Linked DNA regions of Homo sapiens: region 2 is linked to region 1. The links come from fine-mapping of genetic effects on gene expression. A gene starts in region 1. The other region holds a variant in brackets. All regions are shown on one strand. Distances are between the middles of the regions. Region 1 holds the start of SYNRG (synergin gamma). Region 2 overlaps SYNRG (synergin gamma).

Evidence for each region.
Region 2: its variant is fine-mapped to the expression of SYNRG in fibroblasts (GTEx, PIP 0.97).

What each region holds. Positions count from the first base shown.
Region 1 is chr17:37,606,258-37,611,630 of GRCh38, forward strand. SYNRG (synergin gamma) reads right to left here and starts at 3,161. Exons shown (of 22, transcript NM_007247.6): 1 at 3,022-3,161. The coding sequence starts at 3,098. It overlaps DDX52 (DExD-box helicase 52), which reads right to left. Exons shown (of 15, transcript NM_007010.5): 15 at 3,482-5,373.
Region 2 is chr17:37,533,487-37,538,864 of GRCh38, forward strand. SYNRG (synergin gamma) reads right to left here. Exons shown (of 22, transcript NM_007247.6): 18 at 4,838-4,934; 19 at 2,493-2,641. Among named protein-coding and RNA genes, the nearest start is that of DUSP14, 46 kb to the left of the region's middle. The variant T/C (reference allele first, on the strand shown) is at 2,535.

The DNA.
Region 1 (5,373 bases):
TCCTCTTCCTCTAACTCTGTGGGCCAAATGAAATACCACTTCTTTGCCTTTGATATAGCTGAAATCCACAAATATTTACAGAATGTTTTTTATGTGCAAAAATGTGCTAGAAGCAGTGAAAGAAGAAAAGATGAGGAAGCCCTCTAAAAGCTTGTAAAAGATCAGGAAAAAATAGACAAGTTCACAGATGATAACATCCCAGAAGAACGTGACCTCTTTGTTCCACTTTACTTTGTACCACAGTTATTTTGTACATTCTCCAAGGATGGGGACCATGTTTTGATGTCTTTTTAATTCATTACAGCATCAAGAACAGTACCTTACCCATGTAAGCATTCAATGACTACAGACTAATCCAGATCTTTCAACTCTTTTTTTTTTCTGCCTTGATTAAAGAAAAAAAAAATTTATACTTCTCATCTCTTGGGCAAATTTTGCCCTTTATACAACTCTACCATTTATTCTAAAGTAGCTCATCCAGGACACCAATCAAAAGTAGGGTAATATTAAATTTGGAAAACGTTATTGTGTTTTGCTTAGCCTCTTAGAATATAGAGAAGTATCTAAACAATACAGTCAGTTATAGTTCATGGATTTTCTCCATTAAAGGTGTAGAGAAGTTGCCTGTTTTTTTTCTTCAAATATACTTAGGTTGCCATAATGTTAAGTTTCCTTATAAAATAATTTCAGGGAGGGTGGGTGGCAAAAAGAAAATTAAAAAGGAAATAAAATAACTTCAGCCTTTACACCATTACTCTCTAAAAAAAATAATATTCCTTTTTCTATTGAGGATACAGCTTCTCAGCCTCAGAAAGTTGCCAATATATGTAACATATGTACCATACATTTTTCAAGGTAAGAATCATTTTAACCACTTCTTTCTCTCCTGTATATCGTTTACAGTTTTAGAATGCAGATGTTGCTACATTTACAAAGGGGGGAAATTTTAAAATCATTCTAATTTCTATCAAAATTCAACCCATATTTATTTTAAAAATTTGTGTCCATGGACCAATGATACTCAAATACTGCAAACTAAAGGGAATAATGCACTTGAATTTCTGAACCTGAGGTCCTCCCCATCCAAAAACATTTTTTAAGTAAATAAAAATTTGGGCCTAGATATCAATTCTTCTAAGTTTACATTTTCCCAGAACTTGGTGCCATGATTAATCATATACTTGATCAAATTAATACCATCCAGGGACATTTTAGAAACTGTAATCACATATAGGAAATAAATAGAGGATGCCGGGCGTGGTGACTCAAGCCTGTAATTCTAGAACTTTGGGAGGCCAAGGTGGGCGGATCACTTGAGGCCAGGAGTTTGAGACCAGCCTGGCTAACATGGTGAAACCCCGTCTCTACTAAAAATACAGAAATTAGCTGGGCGTGGTGGCGCACGCCTGTAATCCCAGCTACTTGGGAGGCTGAGGCAGAAGAATCGCTTGAACCCGGGAGGTCGAGGTTGCAGTGAGCCGACATCGTGCCACTGCACTCTAGCCTGGGTGACAGAACGAGACTCTGTCTCAATCGATCAATCAACAAAATTAGCCGGGCATGGTGGCGCGCACCTGTAATCCCAGCTGCTCCGAGGCTGAGGCAAGAGAATCGCTTGGACCCAGGAGGCAGAGGTTGCAGCGGGTCGAGATCACGCCGCCGCACTCTGGCCTGGGCAACAGAGCAAGACTTCCTCTCAAAAAAAAAAAAAAAAAAAAAAAAACAAGACAAAAGAAAAAGAAAAAACAAATAGAAGGGAATTATTACATATGTTTCTTCTCCAGCCAGAAACTGGCTTACACGAAGTATTTATTTTTTAAAAAACCCTCTAATGAAACAACGGAGAGAACAAAAGAGAAAGCAAAAAGTTTAAAAATCTAAAGTTAAAGATGTGCAGAGGAAATGAAAAATGGGGTTACACACAGGTGGTTTATTGAACAGCCACTGCTCGTTTCCTGACAAGCACCTGCAAGAGGTGATAACTTTAAGGTCCTTACACTTTTGTAGTGTTCACGACTCCGAAATTGAAACACTGCATATAAAAAAAAAACCTAACACTTCGTTTTCCAAAGACAATTTAGGATACTGAAGATGCAAAGCTACTTTTACCTCCAAATGTGTGTGCTGTTGTGTGTTGGTTAGTAAAACAAAATCAGACTAGGTCATTATAGAAGTGGAGTGAAAACTTCCTAGAATAAAATATTTCCTTAAATGATAACGAATCTGTCAGCTTGTAAAACGTACATCTCCCTTACCATTCTGGGTATAAGAACCACGGCAGTTCTTGGCTGAAATGTGGCAGAGGGCAGATTTGTTTAAGGGCTGAGTCTGGAAGCTTTGTTCTAATAAATGCGCAACTGCTGTTTAACAGTGCACTTTCTTTGTTTTTAAATGCCTTTTTAAAAAGAAGACAGACAAGTCTTAAGAGTTAGTGTACAAGACAAGAACTCTATCTCAAGACCATTACTAATTCAGAGGTCTTTAGATGTTCCTGCTGTTTGTCGCGGGTTAAGGAAATAAAGAGGACAGGACACTCTAAAAGGGGAAGAGACAAATAGTCCACACACACACCCCCCTTGGAAACAGTCCTCCAGCTTTGTGAACAGATTTTTAAAGCCCTCCCTCCAACATATCCGGTTAAGTCTAGAAAGCCCAAGGAAAGGGAAGACCCTGGTCGCTTCAGAGGCAGCTAGGACTAGGAGCGGAGTCGCGGTTCCTGATTTGCCCCGCCCCCCCCCACCCCAAGAGGACCCTCATCTTCTCTCCCCTCCCACACTGGGCGCGCGCTCGCTCCCCGCTCGATTCCAGGCGGCCGGCGCCCCCAACTGATCCCGGAACACCAGCGTCCAGCACCTGGGCTCCACACGCCCCTTTCGGCCTGGGTCCCTGGGGGATGACCCTCCTCCCGCAGCCCAGTTCCAAGGAAAAGGATCAGGGCTGGAGAAAACTGCCATAACTGCCAAGCGCCCCTCGCCGCCCCCGCGGAGGCCAGCGGGCTCCCGCCCGGCTCTTCACACCTACCCGCCTCCCCCGGCGGACCCCGCGCCAGCTCCCGCGGCCCCGCCGCCACCAGAACCAGCTCCTGGCCGCAGCGCCATCTTGCTCCCGACCTGCCGCTGCCTTCGCCGCCGCCACCTTATCAGCAGCTGTCAGCTGAACACAGCCACTTCCGGGTCAAACACCAGGCCCCACCTCGCCGCGGACCGGGCGATGGGGCGGGGCCTCGCGCCCACGTGACTCCCCCGGCCCTCGGGGAGGCGTGGCGCGCCCACGGCACGTGACCCGGCGCCGCAGGGGTCCCCCAGATTCAATTCTAGCTCTCGGGCTGGTGGGGCGGTCGCGGGCGCCTCTCCAAGGGAGCTGATTCATTGTCTGGTAGGCCCTCTGCAGGGCCCAGCTGGCGGCCCAGTGGCAAAGCGCCGTTGGTCCTCCGTTTGAAAACCATGATCGCGGTTAGTGGAAAGAGTAGGCTGAGTCCTGATTTTTAAACTATACGGTGGGTACACTGGTGTTCTTTTATTGTTACTCTTTACACACAAAGAACAGATAGGTCCTGAAGGGCCCTTTGATAGTCTCGCAGCACTGATGAGTGATCAGCTCTCCCCTCTTTCTCTGGAACTCGGTAGCTTCATGTTGGCACCTATCACAGACGCTGAAGGCATTTAAATTTTATTTTAAATCAACCAAGAGCCCAAAAACCCAACCCATATTTCGAAAAAACTCCAAGGTGTACTACTCTTGTTTGGTTCTGCCATCCTGCCACCTTACAGTCCTTTTGTTTTTCCTATTCTTGCAGGCAAGTGCAAAACAGTGGTTTTTGGAAGGCAATTCATAATTACTCTGAAGCTATTTCGGCATATTTTTTACTGATTTTTTTTTTTTTTGAGACAGGGTCTTGCTCTGTTGTCCAGGCTGGAGTGCAGTGGCATGATCATGGCTCACAGCAGCCTCAGCCTCCCTGGCTCAAGCGATCCTCTCGCCTCAGCCTCCTGAGTAGCTGGGACCACAGGCATGCACCACCACACCGGGCCAATTTTTTTTTTTTTTTTTTTTTTTTTTTTTGTAGAGATAGGATCTATGTTGCCCAGGCTAGTTTCAAACTGCTAGGCTCAAGCTATGCTCCCACCTCGGCCTCCAAGTGCCAGGGTGTGAGCCACATGCCTGGGCTGTGATTTTTTTTTTTCTTTTAATCAAACTACTGTCTGGAAGTAAAACATGAAAGTTGAGTAATTTTCTCAAGCACGTAGTTTGCTTGCTAACAAGTAATGGATTAATTAGCTTTACGTTTTCACTCTTGTCTCAAGGTTTTTACTGGGTAATAATTTGTAATAAGTTATTAGGCACAAACCACTGGTCAGGAACTGTACACGCATTTTAAAAAATCCTCAGTATCCTTAGGAGTTACAATTGGCATCTTACAGATGAGAAAATCAAGGTTAGAAACAGTTACTGTCATTTGTCCAGATCATACAGCTACAAGCAATGAGGATCAGGATTCAAATCCAGGCCAGTTTGACTCTAAAGTCCTTGCTCATTTCACCAGAGCCAGCTATTCAATTTTTATGTTTTTTCTTTTGCTGTAACTGCCTGTTCACTAATTTCACTCCTTCCCTTCCTTGTGTGAAGCTGAAATTTATGTAGCACATAGTTCCAACTGCTTTGAAGGAGCTAAATTTAGTATTAATACACTGACTAAGTTGATACAGGTTACTGTAGATACTTTAAACAGACACAATAAAGTCAAGGATCATAGATGTGACCTCAGTTTGTCCTGGAATCCTTTTTGTTCCTCTTCTTTGCCTATTGGTTTTTACATTTGCAGGATTCAACTCAGGATGTCGGCCTTCCATGACATCCCCAATCTGGGTTAGATGCCCTCTTGTGATGCTTTAGCATCATGGCCTTACATCTAACAGAGCACTTGCCACACTAGTCATGTGCTACATGATGATGTTTTGGTCAGCCACAGACAGCAGATACAATGGTGGGATGAGAAGTGGGGGTGGAAGACAGTGAGACTGATGATCCTGACCTTTTGTATGCCTAGCATAATGTGTGTGTTTGTGCCATGGTTTTTAACAAAAAAGTTTTAGAAGTAAATAGTAAAACAAAACAAACAAACAAAAATTAATAGAAAAAAAGCTTCTAGAATAAGGATATAAAGAAATAAAGTATTTTTCTACAGCTGTACATTTGCATTTTAGGCTAAGTGTTATGACAAGAATCAAAAAAGTTTATAAAGGCCGGATATAGTGGCTCACTCCAGGTCAGGAGTTTGAGACCAGCCTGGCCAACATGGTGAAACCCTGTCACTAAAAATACAAAAATTAGCTGGGTGTGGTGGCGCATGCCTGTAGTCCCAGCAACTCGGGA
Region 2 (5,378 bases), 73 kb before region 1:
GCTATGAGGTCAGAAGTTCAAAAGTGATAAGGGCTTGAATTAGTTAATAATTTTTTTAAAAAAGATTTCTAATTTCATTATATTTTCTTTCTTTTCTTTTTCTTTTTTTTTTTTTTTTGAGACAGAGATTCACTCCTGTTGCCCAGGCTGGAGGGCAGTGGTGTGATCTCAGCTCACTGCAACCTCCGACTCCTGGGTTCAAGCAATTCTCCTGCCACAGCCTCCCAAGTAGCTGGGATTACAGGCATGCACCACCACACCCAGCTAATTTTGTATTTTTAGTACAGACGGGGTTGGTCAGGCTGGTTTCGAACTCCCGACCTCAGGTGATCCACCCACCTCGGCCTCCCAAAGTGCTGGGATTACAGGCATCAGCCACTAAGGCCTTCGTTATATTTTCTAACAAAAAAAATAAGGTTTCTAAACTTCATTTTCTTTTCTTTTTTTTTTTTTTTTTTTTTTTTTTGAGACAGAGTCTTGCTCTGTCACCTAGGCTGGAATGCAGTGGCACGATCTCAGCTTACTACAACCTCCATTTCCCGGGTTCAAGCAATTCTCCTGCCTCAGCCTCCTGAGTAGTGGGGATTACAGGCACCCGCTACCATGGCCAGCTAATTTTTTTTTTTTTTGTATTTTTAGTAGAGATGGGGTTTCACCATTTTGGCCAGGCTGGTCTCGAACTCCTGGCCTCAATTGTTCTGCCCGCCTTGGCCTCCCAAAGTGCTGGGATTCAGGCATGAGCCACCATGCCCAGCCTAATTTCATCATATTTTCTAACTACTAATAATATGTAGGATTGTTATGAATTTTTGCCAAATGCAATACATTTAAACTCCTGAATTTAGATTAAAAAATATTTTTTTATCTATCTATCTATCTATAGACCGGGTTATGAGACTGGTTAATTTTTGTATTTTTGGTAGAGACGGAGTTTTGACATGTTGCTCAGGCTGGTCTCAAACTCCTGGGCTCAGGTGATCCGCCCACCTCAGCCTCCCCAAAGTGCTGGCATGACAGGGGTGAGCCACTGCACCTGGCTGCTTGAATTTAGATTTTTAAAAGAATTTCATTATCACCAAGTAAACATAATTTTATCTCTTTTTTCAAATATTAATACTCCATTTCTTATTTCACTTGCCAGAACAGTATTTTTTTTTTTAATTATCTACATACAATTTTAGGTTAGAAAATGAGAAGTGATTCAAGGGAACAAGAAAAAGTTTTGGAAATTACTTAAACTCTTAAAGACTTTAATATTACAAACCAGAAGCAACATGACAATGGTGAGAGGATGTGCTGCTGAAGACATGTAGTTGGGGTAGCTGGGTATCCACCTGGCTATCAGTTCAGAAAATTAGAACTGCTTCCTCCCACACAGCTGCAATCCCATTCAGATGGGTCGCAGAGTTCCATGTTAAAAAAAAAATTGGAATAGCATATTTATTCCAGCTGTGGAAGGAAGATAAACTTCTGACTATTGTGAAATAAAGGATATCATCAGAGACAAATTGAATAGGTATGAATATATAAAAATAAAATAGTTTTGCCCAATGAAATGTAAAAAAGGGACAGTAATAGAGGAGGAAAATAGCTGATAAACGTTTACAAGCTTATATATATGTATATAAATCTATTACAAATATGAAATATATAAGGTCAATAACCATATTCCAAGGAATAAATGGTCAAATGGTCAGAAGAGTCCAATCCGTTTATACACAAAGGAAACAGAAATAGTAAATTGTCATTTGGAACACTGCAAAGCCTCTCATGAAATTAAAAAAAAAAATGTAAAAAATACCTTAGGGAATAATTGCATGCTTGTTAAATTAAGAAATTGATAGGACATAATGTAGAGAAATGTATCCATGTACTTACATATTTCTGGTAGCATTGCAACCAATATAAGCTATTTGGAAAGCCTTCTAATAAATGTAACAACAGCTACATACGCATGCATGCACCTGTGCAGACACACACACTGACCTCCTAGTTCACTTGGAGGAAATACATCCCCACAAAGGAACAGTGATTTGTCTATTCAGAGAACTACTCGTAACAGGGAAAAATGAAAATGACCCAAGAACCTAAAAAAAGAAGGGCTAAACAAACTACAGGATGGCAACATGAGGTATCATATAGCTTTTTGAAAGGACACGTATGGGGACATAAATAACTAGAAGTGCAAAGGGAGTATCTCAAACCACTGCTTTGCAAAACTTCCGTGTATTATGTGAATTAAGAAAGGTGTAGCCAGAGTGAATGTTTTCCTGTACTGGTTTTTTCCTTAGGTTCACTGGGCCTTAGAGAGATCAGAAGCCCACCTGGTACTGTTCAACTGACCACACACCTGTGATCTCCCTCCTTTAATATAACATGCTCCAGTTGGCACCTCCAGCCTCTAATAAGTACCATCATAGGAATATACACTCTGCTTTACAACTTAGGTTTCTGGAAAGGAAAGCAACTGCTGAGTTGTCTCATGGGCTTACTGTGAGTGTGGCGAGTGACATGAAGCCGATTAGGTTATTCCA[T/C]ACTTTATCGATGTCCTTCAGCAACTGCTGGAGTTTCTCACTGCACACTGCAGTGGCTTTTATCCCCAGCTCCACACGCTTGGTTACCCTGTACACTTCAACAACACCTGACGGGATGAGAGAGCAGAGAGAGAGTGTTGGCAGTGGAGACACAGAGGACCCAGACAGGGGAGCATTATTGCTTGCTGATATCTGTGAGAAACAATGGGTGTATCTGGACAGAGGTGTACTTACTATTCTTTGGGACCAATCCACTTCTCAATGCTGCTGTATAGCTTACTGGTAAGAGCATAGAAGCTGCACTGCTTGGGTTCAAACCCCAGCTATGCCTCTTACTGGCTACATGACCTTAGGCAAGTCACATAATCTCTCTGTACCTCAGTTTCCTCATCTGTGAAGTTGGGATGGTAACAGTAGCTCCTCCAAGGATGGTTGAGAGGATTAAATAGGGTAATATGGTAAAAGGCTTACAACAGTGCTTGGAGAATGGCAGGCACTATGCAAGTTATTAGCTTTTGTTTTTTGGGAGGTTTATTTATGAGTCCATCTGTTTGAATCTGGGAAATCCCAATAAACTAGCTGAAAATGGGGATAGTAAAAATTTAAAAGAATCTAAATGTTAATAGCATCACAAAGTAATGAAGAAACATCTCACCCCTCTGAATCTGAAGGTCTTACAAACACTTTGACTTCACTTATCTTTAAACACATAACAGGATGCAGAACAGTTCTTTTCCTATGGTCTCTAAATTGTGGTTGAACTCTTGAAGCAAGGATGAGAGGTGCTAAGTACCTCCACATTCTAAGGACAGCCACCAGACACATCCCTAACCCCTGCAATGTAACAGTCACCAAAGACATGACCCCGATCTCTCTAAGTGAACACTGGAGGAATTCCAGGGGATCTTCAGAGCGGGGCCTCAGCAGCCCTGTGTCAGCACTACGGCTTTTCTTCTTCCTTTCCCAAGAGAGGGGCAGAAATTACTGCCCACCCTAAGCCAAGTGAGGGGGCTTCTAAGAGAATCTTCCATAGATACAAGGATACTAGGAGAAAAGACAGGTGCCCCATTTCCTGGTGGACATCTGCTTATGCAGAACTGTGCCTGTTTGAGCAGGAAAAGAAGACCCCAAGTGAGGTGGCAGGAGTAAGGCAGAGACTACATCCCTTCACTCTCCACTCATCCAGCAAATATTTTTGAGTGCCAACTACGTGCAAGACACTAGATTAGGTGTTGGGGACACACCAGTGAACAAAACAGACCAAAATCCTTGCCTTCTTGGAGGTTCATTCTAGTGAAGGGAGACAGAGAGTAAAAACAACAAGTAGCTAGGTGCAGTGGCTCACGCCTGTGATCCCAGCACTTCGGGAGGCCAAGGTGGGTGGGTCGCTTGAGCTCAGGAGTTCGAGACCAGCCTGGGCAACATGGCGGAAACCTGTCTCTACAAAAACTACAAAAATTAGCTGGGTGCATGGTGGTGCACACCTGTGGTTCCAGCTACTTGGGAGGCTGAGGTGGGATGATTGCTTGCGCCTGGGAGGTGGACGCTGCAGTGAGTCATGACTACATCACTACACTCCAACCTGGGTGACAGAGTGTGAACCTGTCTTAAAAAAGAAAAGAAAAGAAAAGAATAATAAGTAACATATGTAAGAAATTAAAGGTAATAGGGCTAAGGAGAAAATCCAGCAGAGAATGGGATGGGAAGTACCGGGGTAGGGAGAGACGATACTCTTTGGAGAGATGGATGCTAGGAAAGATTTCACTCAGAAGCTGACATTTGAGTAAAGATTTGAAAAAGATTAGGGTCCAGCATGTGTGGCTCTGGCCACGGGCCAAGCCTGAGCTTGGGGAAGGGAGGAACACCGAAGTGGACAGAGACTACACTTTCCCGTTGGACTGACACATCAAATTGCTGCAGATGGCCAGGAGGTTAAGGACTCTGTGGTGTCATTAAGCGGTCGAGAGAAAGAATATAGAGTATGGTAAGGAATTGATGGGAGACAAGATGATTTTACTTTAGTGCATCGGTAGTTCAGATTCTTTGATAAACCAGTAACACAGATATAATTTTACATTTTTGCTATTACGTATATAACAAGGATGAGGAAACTTAGCCATAGAGACTTTTTAATTAAGTCCAATAGTTTACTGCCTGTAGCTTGAGTGTCTTACCCACAAATACAGATGCTTCTTACTGAAGTCATATGTAACTTGAGAGATCTAGCTTAAAATAATTAAAGGGAAAACTGAAAATAATGCAAAGGGCCATCATTTTCAATAGTAAAATATGAAAGAACATACCTAATAAATATTCCATGCCTTGAGCTGACTGAATTACTTCTGTGCAAACAGAACTACTACTGATTCCATTTAAGGTATCATTTGCCTTCTTAATGACCTACAAGAAATGAAATCACATCACCTTACATAACTGAGAAAAGTCATTGCAAATCAATTTACTATTAGTAGAAAACCCAACCGAAAAGCCAGGAGGTGTCAAAAAATCTCATTTTATCCTTGAAGAAACAATCCTCCATTTCTCTGGAAGAGAAAATATGTTTTTTTCCTTTTGTTTTGTTTTGCTTTGTTTTGAGACGGAGTCTCGCTCTGTAGCACAGGTTGGAGTGCAGTGGCAAGATCTCGGCTCACTGAACCCCTGACTCCCGGGTTCAAGTGATTCTCCTGCCTCAGTTTCCTGAGTAGCTGAGATTACAGGCACGTGCCACCACGCCTGGCTAATTTTTGCATTTTTAGTAGAGACAGGGTTTCACCATGTTGGTCAGGCTGGTCTCAAACTCCTGACCTCGTGATCCGCCCGCCTTGGCCTCCCAAAGTGCTGGGA